Regions from separate parts of the Homo sapiens genome. Here all the other regions are reported to be linked to region 1. Evidence: microRNA targets listed by miRTarBase, many of them from high-throughput screens and not tested one by one. Region 1 holds a microRNA gene; each other region holds the end of a gene's coding sequence.

The links. The annotated mature microRNA hsa-miR-6746-5p reads CCGGGAGAAGGAGGUGGCCUGG and lies in region 1 at 1,359-1,380, shown strand. An mRNA with a match to its seed (bases 2 to 7 or 8) in the 3' UTR can be bound and repressed. Matches are read on the target gene's strand: a 7mer-m8 pairs with bases 2 to 8, a 7mer-A1 pairs with bases 2 to 7 and ends in A, and an 8mer does both.
Region 2: the mRNA of AQP2 is a reported target of hsa-miR-6746-5p. Seed matches in the 3' UTR shown: 7mer-m8 at 3,636-3,642.
Region 3: miRTarBase lists XPNPEP3 as a target of hsa-miR-6746-5p. Seed matches in the 3' UTR shown: 7mer-A1 at 3,500-3,506.

What each region holds. Positions count from the first base shown.
Region 1 is chr11:61,875,505-61,879,631 of GRCh38, reverse strand. It overlaps MIR6746 (microRNA 6746), which reads left to right and starts at 1,354; the gene lies at 1,354-1,416. It overlaps FADS3 (fatty acid desaturase 3), which reads left to right. Exons shown (of 12, transcript NM_021727.5): 3 at 123-320; 4 at 785-886; 5 at 998-1,120; 6 at 1,417-1,477; 7 at 2,045-2,121; 8 at 2,669-2,766; 9 at 3,177-3,273; 10 at 3,442-3,521; 11 at 3,656-3,781. RefSeq lists an enhancer at 1-465.
Region 2 is chr12:49,955,198-49,959,324 of GRCh38, reverse strand. AQP2 (aquaporin 2) reads right to left here. Exons shown (of 4, transcript NM_000486.6): 4 at 447-3,926. The coding sequence ends at 3,717. All of the region lies in intron 1 of AQP5-AS1 (AQP5 and AQP2 antisense RNA 2), which reads left to right. Among named protein-coding and RNA genes, the nearest start is that of AQP5, 4.6 kb to the left of the region's middle.
Region 3 is chr22:40,925,813-40,929,939 of GRCh38, forward strand. XPNPEP3 (X-prolyl aminopeptidase 3) reads left to right here. Exons shown (of 10, transcript NM_022098.4): 10 at 457-4,127. The coding sequence ends at 623. Among named protein-coding and RNA genes, the nearest start is that of RBX1, 24 kb to the right of the region's middle.

The DNA.
Region 1 (4,127 bases):
CACTTCATTCCTCTTTGCCCACACCCCTTGGGCCTGGCGATGGGAGGAGCGGCTGGGGCTCCAGGAGAATGGGGGTGGGGAGGAATTTCTTCCTTGGCTGATCGGCCCCTCTGCTATGGCAGGCGCAGCTGGTCGAGGACTTCCGAGCCCTGCACCAGGCAGCCGAGGACATGAAGCTGTTTGATGCCAGTCCCACCTTCTTTGCTTTCCTACTGGGCCACATCCTGGCCATGGAGGTGCTGGCCTGGCTCCTTATCTACCTCCTGGGTCCTGGCTGGGTGCCCAGTGCCCTGGCCGCCTTCATCCTGGCCATCTCTCAGGTGACCCCAGTTCTGTGTTGCAGCCACCTTAACTGCCCAACAGACGTGGGCCCCCATGCATCTGGGCATTGTGAACATATTTGCTAAATGAATGAATGGACCTATGAAAGGATGAATGGATGAATAAACAGATGAATGAGTGAACAGTCTGAAGGCCCATCAGGCATGTCTGTGGGTCAAGCTGCATTCCAGATGAGCCAAGAAGTTCCTTCTTGAACAGATTCCGATCAAGCACAGGGCCACTGAGCCAGAGGCTGCTGCCCTGCAGCTTCATGACACTTACGAGCCCCTCCACCTCCCTGGGACTCAGTTCTCATCTGTAAAAAGAGGACACTGGCCCACAAGGGTCTTGAAATGGAGCATTAGCACGGGGGTACCCTGCAAGCTGAAAGGATTCACTGGGGCCCCAGGCCCTGGCGGGCTCCGTCCTTCCCAACAGCTTCTGACCCTGCCTCTCTCCCCAGGCTCAGTCCTGGTGTCTGCAGCATGACCTGGGCCATGCCTCCATCTTCAAGAAGTCCTGGTGGAACCACGTGGCCCAGAAGTTCGTGATGGGGCAGCTAAAGGTGAGGGTGGGGTGGGTGGTCAGCCAGGTGCTGGGTGGCGCTGGGTCTGCCCAAGTGTGTGGGCACAGTCGGGGGCACAGCCTGCCCTGAGAGCCCCCTCCTCCTCCACAGGGCTTCTCCGCCCACTGGTGGAACTTCCGCCACTTCCAGCACCACGCCAAGCCCAACATCTTCCACAAAGACCCAGACGTGACGGTGGCGCCCGTCTTCCTCCTGGGGGAGTCATCCGTCGAGGTGGGTGGGGAGGGACGTGGACAACCTCTGGCTGGGCCTGCAGCTGAGGGGGAGCTAATGCACTGGGTCCCCACTCTGCCCCTGACCTAGCCCCTGATCTGGCCTCCACTCTGGCTGGGCCAAGCTCTGCCCCCGTGTCTTTCCTTCCCACCTCCCAACCTGCTGGGGACGACCAGCCCGCTTGCTAGAATCTAGAGTTGCCTTTGACCCTTGGCCCCAGCCAGCCCCGTGACCTTGCCCGGGAGAAGGAGGTGGCCTGGAGAGCTGCTGTCTCCAGCCGCCGCCTGTCTCCACAGTATGGCAAGAAGAAACGCAGATACCTACCCTACAACCAGCAGCACCTGTACTTCTTCCTGAGTGAGTGTCCATCTGTCCTTCTGGGGTGGGGGAGTGCCTGGGCCTGCACTGTCCTCCCTGCTGTCCTGGACCACTCCCAGCCACTTCCTGGGGCGGGGCACGTCTGTCAGGTCTCCCTGGTCATGGCATCCTCCCAGCCTCTGCAGTCTGTACACACTCTCCCAGCAGCATGCCTTTGCCCCAGCTGTCTCCCGTGCCTGGGACACCTTGCAGCCACGGGCCATCACAGCCCTGCTGGGAGCTTCCCCAAGCCCCACGTAGAATTTCTTCTTGCCCTCACTAGAGTGGTCCGGAGCCCTAGAGTCTTTGGGCAGTTGTTGGGGCGGACAGAGTGAGGACTCAAGTCTGGCCCTGACTTGCGGTGAAGGGTGGTGGGAGGTGGTGGGGTAAGGGCAGCCTGGGGAGGCTTGGACACAGAATTGGGGGTGATATGGGGTCATTCAGCTGGATGTGACCAGCACCAACGTCCCAGGGGCATTCCTGGAGTAACAGAGCCCCTCACTCTGGCGCCCACTCACCTTGGCAGCCCAGCCCCACTCCTGAACACTCTCATGCCCCTTCTTGCAGTCGGCCCGCCGCTGCTCACCCTGGTGAACTTTGAAGTGGAAAATCTGGCGTACATGCTGGTGTGCATGCAGTGGGCGGTGAGTGGGGTTGCCCAGGACCCCGGGCATACGGCTGCCGTGGCAGGAGGTGGTGCCTCGGGGGACAGTACCTGCCCATGAAGGCAAACAGGGTGCACATGTGCGTGCAACAGTGTGGCTCACATGTATGCGTGCAACAGTGTGGCTCACATGTGTGCGCGCAGCAGGAGAGCGAGTGTGCCCGTGACTGTACGTGTGGTGGGGGGGGGTTGAGGAACAGGGGGGGTGTGGGTCTCTCTCGGTGAGGGTGTCTTCCCAGGAGGAGTTGCTGGGCTGACTCTGCCAGGCATCTGTGTCCCTGGCAGGGTCTTCCCCAACACACCCTGCATGACACCTTCGTCACTAAAATCAGCCTCGTGAGCTGGCAGGGCAAGGACCCTGTTCCTTTACTCAGCTGAGAAAACCAGAGAGGGTGGTGGCCTGTCCTGGGCTCTGAGGCAAATCAGGCAGAAGGGTTGGATGCCTGAGGTCCTCCTCCCACCCACCAGGCCTCCAGACCTCCGGGCACCTGGAGACCTCTCGGTATCGCCTCTGCCCTCCTCTGCAGGATTTGCTCTGGGCCGCCAGCTTCTATGCCCGCTTCTTCTTATCCTACCTCCCCTTCTACGGCGTCCCTGGGGTGCTGCTCTTCTTTGTTGCTGTCAGGTATGGCAGGGAGTGGCGAGGTCACACACAGGCGACAGGTGACCCCCACTGCAGCCCCCCACCAGAGCTTCCCTTTTCCCGTCTGCAGAATGGGGCCAGTGGTACTGCCTCCCTGGCTTGCTGGTGGAATCACATAAACACAAGCGTGGCAGGAGCCCAGGGTCGGTGGGTTTAGGGAGCGTGGCCTGGCTTGTAAGTGGCCCGGTGGGTGTCGGAGCTGCTCTGGACTCAGCCTCACAGTGGACACTGCTCCATTCAGATTCTTTAAACACTGGCAAGGGGGCGATGGCCACAATCCTATTGTACAGATAAGGAAGTCAAGGCCACTTGGGGACAGCTGCTCTCCAGCCTCCACTCAGGGTGCCTAAGTGGTGAGCTGGACCTAGGGCAGTGCCCGAGCCTCCCCACAGGGTCCTGGAAAGCCACTGGTTCGTGTGGATCACACAGATGAACCACATCCCCAAGGAGATCGGCCACGAGAAGCACCGGGACTGGGTCAGCTCTCAGGTGGGCAGCAGGGGTGGGGCCCATCCTGGGTGGGGTGGGGGGTCCCAGCTAGGAGCCAGATGGCAAAGCAGGGATGAGGCCCTGACGGGGCTGCCAGGTGGGGGATGGTGCCGTGGGGTCAGGGATCTGCAACGGCCTCCTCACATGTGCCCCGCCGGCTTCCGGCAGCTGGCAGCCACCTGCAACGTGGAGCCCTCACTTTTCACCAACTGGTTCAGCGGGCACCTCAACTTCCAGATCGAGCACCAGTGAGTGTGGGTGCTGGGGGCCAGTGGGAGGTGGGGAGGGGGTCCTGGGAGGGGATCCTGGGAGGGGACCCGTGGGTGGGGCCTCTCTCTGGAATCTCCCACTTCAGGTGCCAGCATACGCTCCCCACCCCCAGCCTCTTCCCCAGGATGCCGAGACACAACTACAGCCGGGTGGCCCCGCTGGTCAAGTCGCTGTGTGCCAAGCACGGCCTCAGCTACGAAGTGAAGCCCTTCCTCACCGCGCTGGTGGACATCGTCAGGTGAGGCTGCAGCCCGGCCCCTCTGTTCTGGTGGCTTCCCCAGGGCCTATGCCTACCCTTGTCCAGGTCAGCCTCATGCTGAGCCCCCAGGGTCCCTGAGCCTTTCTGTCCACGTCCCATGCCCTTCCTCCCTTCCCCAGCCTTCACGCACACAGTGAGAATTTCTGGAGCACCTACTGCAGACTCACAAACAGCAGTGCCTGCGGTGAGCAGGTCTATGCAAACCTACCCCCAAAGGCTGAGGGAAAGAAGCTAACAGATCCAGTTTCTCAGAAGGAAACACTTAACAGGGACTCATAAACAGAAGCCATGTCTCAGGGCCGGGTGCGGTGGCTCACGCCTGTAA
Region 2 (4,127 bases), not on the chromosome of region 1:
TCAGGAGTGGGCCTGGTGAGGCCAAAGAAGGAGATTTCATCTGTCAAGGTTACTCACACAGGGCAGCTGATTCTGTTTCCTAGGGCCTGTGTCTTAGGCTCTTCCATCTCTCTAACCACTAGAGTCCCTCTGTCCTCAAGTCATCACAGTAAACTCCCATTATGTCTCGGAATTCTCTTTGCCCAAGCACTCAGGCCCTGCCCTGGCAGCTCCAGAGGAATGCCCGGGACCTTTGTGAGCTGAGTGATGGGTCTCCCCATTTGTGGCAGGGGGAATTTGAATGTCTTAGGGAGAGCCCTTCCCCTCCTCTCCTGATATGGGGACTTCTGAGTTCCCTGGGAGAAGTTGAGGGCTGGGGTAGAAGTGGTAGGGAGCTCCGCCTGTCTTCTGGTACCTTGGGCTGTATTTCTATTACCACTGCCAAGTTGTGGAAGAAACAGTACTTATTGGCAAATGAGCATTTATTGAGTGCTTATTATATGCAGAGCAGTTGAAGGAAGGTAGATAGGAGAACGCCATCCAAGAACTGGAAGCAGCCCTTGTCCCCAAAGGGCTTACAGTCTAGCTGGGAGGCATTGTATATATACAACATCACAGCTTAAAGATACAAAACGACATTGAAGCACCATTTGCAGGTGCAAAGTCATTTGGCACAAAGTGGGAGTATGGGACAGCTCAGAACCTTCTCTGTCCCCAGCTTAGGGACCTGGAGGTCTGTCTACCTGTCTCCATGCTGCCCTGCCTCTGTCTGGTTTGGTGTGTGTGATCTCTGTTCTCTGACTGACCGGGTGCTCTTAAAGGGCAGAAACCAGCCCCACATTCTTTGTCCTCTCTACCCTGCTGCCCTCGCCAAGGCTCTCCGTCCACTGCAAGACAGTGGGTTGGGCTGGAAAGGCCCAGCCATGTGTTCTGGCTTCTGCCAGGGCCTCCCAGGAGCCTAGGATTTGTCTCAGTGGAAAAATCATGGGATTTTGTGTAAAAAGGTCTGAGTTCAAGTGTTGGCTCCACCATATACTACCTGTGAGACTTTAGACCAGTCCCTTAGCCTTGGTTTCTGAATCTGTAAAATGGGAAGAACAATATTTGCTCTACCTTTGTCACGGGGTTGGGAGATAATCACAGGGGACGATAAGGGGAAGCTTTGGAAATAGCAAAACCCTTCATGGCTGGGGGCCTTTGTCCTTCCCTAACCTATCTGAAGTTTGAGGAAGATCAGATAAGTCCGTGCATGCAAGGCACCCAGCACAGCAGCTGGTACACAAGAGATGCCAGGAACTGCCAATTTCCCTCCACCCCTGGAGTTCCATCACTTGGAATCCTTTTTTGACCTCTGACTCCAATCTGGGCAATAGAGGCTAGAAATGGTAGGGATTTCACATTTAGTTTTTGGGGAGATGCAATCCAAAAAGTGAAACAGACATAGAGAGAAATTCTTGGCTTCTTCTAGAGGAGTTTGTTGGGGTGAGGTGGGGTGGGGATGAGGTGCCTGAGACACATCCATGCTGGGCTCATAGCTCACTGCCTTGCTGCCTTTGAACCTCTAGAGCAAGGACACTCAGGTGCCAGGAGGACAGCTCTGGAGGTCACTTTGGTTTCTGACTCCACCCTTCTTCTGGTAGTGAGGCCAAGTGGCTGTCACTAGCTATTGGGGGTTTGGGAGAGTCCTCTCCATAGCACATATGGCCCAGGGCAGCCTTTTTTGGACCTCAAAGAGAGCTTTGGTCAAGGAAGACAGGAAAGAGCATAGATGAGAGGGGACACAATTACAGAGATGTTCCTTATACACTGTCTTTCTTGGATGGGAGCAGAAGGGAGAAAGAGGCTAGAGACTTAGTGCCTGGTGCACAGTGGGTGCTTGGTGCAGTGTGAGATAGATACAGACAGAAGTCTTGAAGGCATGGAGGCCACAGAGAGCATGGGGGCGGAGGGGGGTTCAAGGTATGACCCACATGTTACTTATACAGCAGGCTGGAGAGGGAAGGAGAGAATGGATAGGGCTGGGTGGTAGGAGGAAGGAGGTGGGAGAAAAGATAGGGCACACATTCAGGGTAAGAAGAGGTTAAGAGGCTGGGCCAGGATGGGGCCAGCCCCAAACCCATCTCCTTCTGCCTGGATCTTGTGGGCTCCCAGGACTCTCCTTTGCTTTGGCCATCAACGAAAGGAGGTAAGGGATGTTGAGCATCAGACTCCTTCTGCATCCTTCCCCCAGGAAGCAGAAATAATGAAATGATTCTAGTAATGCGTGATAATGGTATTAAGAATTACAGTTTACACAGCATCTTTACATGCGTCATCTCACTTAATCCCAGTTAATCTCTTTTGAGAGCAGTAGTACTGGCCTAGAAATTTAGAAGCCTGGGTTCTAGACTCAGATCTGCCTCTGCCTGGAGAAGTCATTTCCCTTCTCTGGTCCTGAGAGCAGCAGGCTGCTCTATCCACAATGACTGTCCAGTGGTAGGAGCCAGAAGCAGGGGATCACGGGCTGTGGAGAGGCAGACAGAGAAGGAACAGAGATTCCTGGGGTGGAAAAGCTGCTGCCTGAGGACTGGGGAGAGTGAGATGGGTGATGGATGGGTATTGCCTGGTGCCCATGGTTGCATGCCTGAGCGCCTTGCCCAGCCAGCCATAGGTGTGTGCTGGGCAAGAGGGCTCACTTGTGAAACTGAGTGTCTCCTTTCAAGAAGTGTCTAGGTGCAAATCTCCCCTCACCCAAGACAAAGGCCCGGGTCCCACAAAGGGCTTTTGTTTTCTGCGCCGAAGTGGGAGGCTAATCTCTGGGTCTGGGGCACCCCTGGAGACGGGGGTCCCGGGCACACACAGCATACACACACGTGAAGGCGTGCGCACTCATATGCCTGCTTCCTCTTTGGAGAGGTTCTCCCTCACCACAGAAAGGAAATCTTTGGCCACCAAAGATTTCCTTTTTCCAGAGGCCATGTCTAGGGGAGCTGTTCTCTGGTTGACACCTCTCTACCTCCAGCAATGAGTCTTGGCAAGCCTTGGGGCCCAGCGCTGCAGGTGGGGGAAATTTTCCAGGAGGAGCCAGATTGCGGCTGGAAATCAAGGCCCTCCCTTCAGCCCTCTCAAAGTGGCCTCCTTCCCTTCCCCTTCTCCTGAGGAGGACTGGCACCCACACTCATCCACTGCAGGAGAAGCGGATTTATTGCAGGTTGGGGAGGAAGGGGTGCAAGGGGAAGTGAGAAGTCCCCAGCCATGCACACTTGCACCAACGTAGGCAAACCTGTTCACACTCAGGGGCATGCACAACTCTGCATGTGAGGACAAAAGAGAACTTGGGGATGAACACACTTGCACACTAGTAAAACCAGTTGCATCATTCCCGGAACCCCCAAGGCAGGGGTCTGTACACTCCCCACTCAGTACCTGGGTGCAGGCTCTCCAGAGTTTCCCTCTTACCACCCACCTGCCTCCCTCCCCAGCTCAGTCCCCTAAGTTCCCAGTTCCCTGAAAAAGGCTGGAGAAGCCACCACTAGCTGCTCACAGCCTCAGGGCAGGGGACCTGCCAGGCTCAGGGCTCCCTCCGGCAGCCTCCTCCCCGCCTGCTCACAGCACTGGCCTGGGCGCGCACGTCCAGGAAGCAGCTACTCTGCGCTGGGGGGCCAACTTCAGACCTGCGGGAGAGGAGGGACGGGGTGGGCCCTTCTGCCTCGGGCCTCACAAGCGTCCGTCGGGGCCGTAGAGGCCGCTGGCGGCCCTCAGGCCTTGGTACCCCGTGGCAGGCTCTGCGGCGAGTGCAGCTCCACCGACTGCCGCCGTCGCACCTCGCGCTCCTCCCAATCGGTGTCCGGCTCCAGGCCCTTCAGCACTGCCAGGCGCTCCGACAGGCTCTTGGCTGGCGGAAACAGCACGTAGTTGTAGAGGAGGGAGCCCAGGATGGCGCCCACCAGGGGTCCGATCCAGAAGACCTGGGGGCGAGCGGAGAGGGCGGCTTGGCACCCGCGCCGGCACCGGCACGCGGAGCCCGCAGGCCCCGGCGGCACACTCTGCGGCCGCACCTCTCCTCCCCGACATTAATCTAGTAAAATGCTTATTTATGTAATTACAACGACAACGCCAGCTGCTGGGGAAGCCTTGTCAGTGCGGGGTTAAGGGTGCGAATTCTGAAG
Region 3 (4,127 bases), not on the chromosome of region 1:
TTCTTTGAATACAGTTTAAATATATTTTGTCTTTATTTTTGCAAGGTGCTCTTTTTCCAAGGGACTCTTAGGCAGGGGAAGAATGCACTTACATAATCTGCTTGTCCCCCACATATATTGACGTACTTTTAAATTAAGTAACTTTATTGGCCTGCTTGAGCCACTAGAATATGACAGAATCATGATCAGCATTGCCGTAGTTGTATTTAGCTTGTAGTCCAATATAAAGATAACCACAATAATAATTTTAGTAATGATACCAACATGTGTTGACCATTATATGCCAGCCACTTTGACATGTATTATCTCATTTAATCCTCACAGCTTTACTAGGTAGGTACCATAAAGATCCAGTATTACAGAGGAAGGAATTTTAACCCAGAGGTTAACTTACTTGCCCCAAACCACCCAGTTACTATCATTCCTGAACAGCATGTTCTTCTTTCTACTTCACAGGCATTTATATTCCAGAGGATGACAAAGATGCCCCAGAGAAGTTTCGGGGTCTTGGTGTACGAATTGAGGATGATGTAGTGGTGACTCAGGACTCACCTCTCATCCTTTCTGCAGACTGTCCCAAAGAGATGAATGACATTGAACAGATATGCAGCCAGGCTTCTTGACCTTCACTGCGGCCCACATGCACCTCAGGTTCAAAATGGGTGTCTTCTGGCAGCCCTGCACGTGTGCTTTCTGAGTGTCTCTGTGTGTGCATTAATATATGCATTCCATTTGGGAGCATAGCAGCTGTGTGAATGTATGTAATTGTGTGTGGGGGGTTTTTTGTTTTAAGTAGTTAGAAGTCTGGGAAAATGAATTTTTGAATAGTATGTTACTGCAGCTTTGGTAACATTAATTCTATAGAATTAATGATCAGAGCAAGTTTAATTTTTAAACATAAAGGTCTTGGTTACACATGTCCATGCATTCCAGTTAACACATTTAAACATATAGAAAATTCACTTCTTCTTTCAAGTCCTTCCCTTTCTATACTTTTGCTGAGATCAACCCAATATCATAAGAAGTTTGTGTGATGCCTGTATTTTTAGCTAATTACCAAGGTCTCTGCCTATGCAAAAATTCATCTTTCGGTGATTGTGGGCGGCCAATACATACCTTCTGTAACTCCTCCCTACCTATTCTAGATCCTGCATATCTACTGGAGCCATATGAGCCCTCAGGGGCACTGGTGTCCTGCAGTCTTACTAGTCAGCCACAGTCCAGGTTCCAGCAACACTAGCTACCTACCAAACAAAACACTTCTGAGCTTTTCTTGCCATTTGGTTGCCTGGGACCTGGAAAGTGTTTAGATTCTTGATAAAGATGGAAATGGAAGAGAAAGAAAATTATATATGTATATACTAAAGATCCAGACATCAGGGCTGGGCACAGCGGTTCCGCCTGTAATCCCAGCACTTTGGGAGGTCCAGGCAGGTGGATCTCTTGAGACCAGGAGGTCAAGACCAGCCTGGCCAACGTGGTGAAACACTGTCTCTACTAAAAATACAAAAATGAGCTGGGTGTGATGATACATGCCTGTAATCCTGGCTACTTGGGAGGCTGAGGCATGAGAATTGCTTGAACCTGGGAGGTGGAGGTTGCAGTGAGCTGAGCTCATGCGACTGCACTCCAGCCTGGGTGACTGAGCAAGACTCTGCCTCAAAAAAACAAATAAATAAATAAAATCCTGACATCCTGCCATCTTTTCTCTTCAATTTAAAGTTGATTTCTTAATGATGACTTCAAAAATTAATAAAAAGAAAAGAAAAAAATGATTTCTGGCCGGGCGTGGTGGCTCAAGCCTGTAATCCCAGCACTTTGGGAGGCCGAGGTGGGCGGATCACGAGGTCAGGAGATTGAGACCTCCTGGCTAACACGGTGAAACCCCGTCTTTACTAAAAATACAAAAAAAATTAGCTGGGCGTGGTGGCGGATGCCTGTAGTCCCAGCTACTCAGGAGGCTGAGGCAGGAGAATGGCGTGAACCCAGAAGGCAGAGCTTGCAGTGAGCCAAGATCGCGCCACTGCACTCCAGCCTGGGTGACAGAGCGAGACTCCGTCTCAAAAAAAAAAAAAAAAAAGAAAAAAAAAAGAAAGATTTCTTTCGCAGATATCCCTGCTCCCTCTATAGATTCTTAATGCACTGACCCTCACAGGTTACCCTTTTAGCTGTTGTGCTGCGCAGGAGCAGATCCTCTACTTACGTACCCTGTCAGAGTCACAGTAGTAGCGCCCAGTTTTCAGAGAAGTACCCCTGTTATCATTCTGTGATTTCCTCTAGTGCTAATAGAAACAAAATATGGAATCTACCAAGTACCCGTAAATATCCTATGATTCTTATCTTTCTTTGATACTAGCACTGGGAGTGCAGTGGTAAAGAGTCATACTTCTTTTTTTTTTTTTTTTTTGGAGACAGAGTCTCGCTCTGTCGCCTGGGCTGGATGGAGTGCAGTGGCGTAATCTCAGCTCACTACAACCTCCACCACCTGGGTTCAGGCAATTCTCCTGCCTCAGCCTCCCAAGTAACTGGGACTACAGGTGCACGCTGCCATGCCCAGCTAATTTTTTGTATTTTAGTAGAGACAGGGTTTCACCCTGTTGCCCAGGCCGGTCTCAAACTCCTGAGCTCCGGCAATCCGCCCACCTCAGCCTCCCAAAGTGCTAGGATTACAGGCATGAGCCACTGCGCCCGGTGTAAGAGTCATATTTTTTTAAACACAAACATTGGATACAATTATACAGCAACTCAGTTTGCAAGATGAACAGGGCTAGATTACCACAGATAGCTTATTTAGGAGCGTCTGTGATAGAGGGAAGCTTTAAGAACCAGTGTGTTCACCTCCTTTAAACCTGGATATGAGGTCAAGATGTATAAAACATGCCAATTGTTAGAACACAAATTTGAGGGTTTCTTAAAAAAACAATTTGTATTAGGGAAGCACAAGCTAGGGGATTAACAATCTCTGTAATGCTGGAAGTTTGCCTATCTTATCAGGGAAACCCAGGGTACAGAGTGAAAAGCAGACAGGCAGTGACTTCCTCAAGAGACAGATAATGTGAAAACAAAAGTGATACAAATCATATCCTGACAGTGCTAGCCTAGGAATGCCTGGCTTTGCGCACCTTATCTAAGCAGCTCTCAGAATGGAGGCTGCACAGCTGGAGTCTCCATCCCCCATACCCACCTTCCCACCTCCCTCCAATTTCTCAATCCAGAGCTTTTTAAAAAAAGGGGAGGGAAATAACTCCACAGCTCTGGCTGCTCACTTCCCAGGCTCTGTGCCCCCAACAGCCCTTTCCTTGGATTGTGTTTCCTTTGTTCATTTGTAATCCAGGAATAAGGAATTTCCTTTTCTTCTTGTATCATTTTCTTTTCTTTTCTTTTTTTTTTTTTTTTTGAGACGGAGTCTCACACTGTCACCGGGGCTGGTGTGCAATAGCGAGACCTCAGCTCCCTGCAACCTCCATCTCCCAGGTTCAAGCGATTCTCCTGCCTCAGCCTCCCGAATAGCTAGGAATACAGGCGCCTGCCACCACACCCGGCTATTTTTTTGTATTTTAAATAGAGACGAGGTTTCACTGTGTTGGCCAGGCTGGTCTCGAACTCCTGACCTCATGATCTGCCCGCCTCGGCCTCCCTAAGTGCTGCGATTACAGACGTGAGCCACCGCACCTCCTGTATCATTTTCTATGGTCTAAACTTTTCTAGCTAAAAGCCTAGGTAGCTTGTATGTATAGCAGCATACTTGGACATGAAACACACTTCTGGTTAGATTCCAGTCAAGTTCTATAGGTGTTATTGGTAGGCAGAAAGGCTGTTGTAGAATTCTTCTGGTGATTTTCAGTCCCTGACCCAGGTATATTGTCCTTTGAGTCCCAGATTAACTAACTATAGCAGCTAAGCATTTGAATCAGACTTCTCATAGCAATGTTATGGGCTGTCTGATATATTCAGGATTTGTTGAGCAGATAAGCTGTGTGTGATCTTACTCATTCTCAGCCATGCCGCAGACATACCCATTTCCCTTTAGTAATTTTTTAATACAGAGAATGCTATTAACTGTTACTGGATATCAAATAATTTTATTTTTCTAATAGTATTTTCCAAATATTTCTTAAAATTCTTAA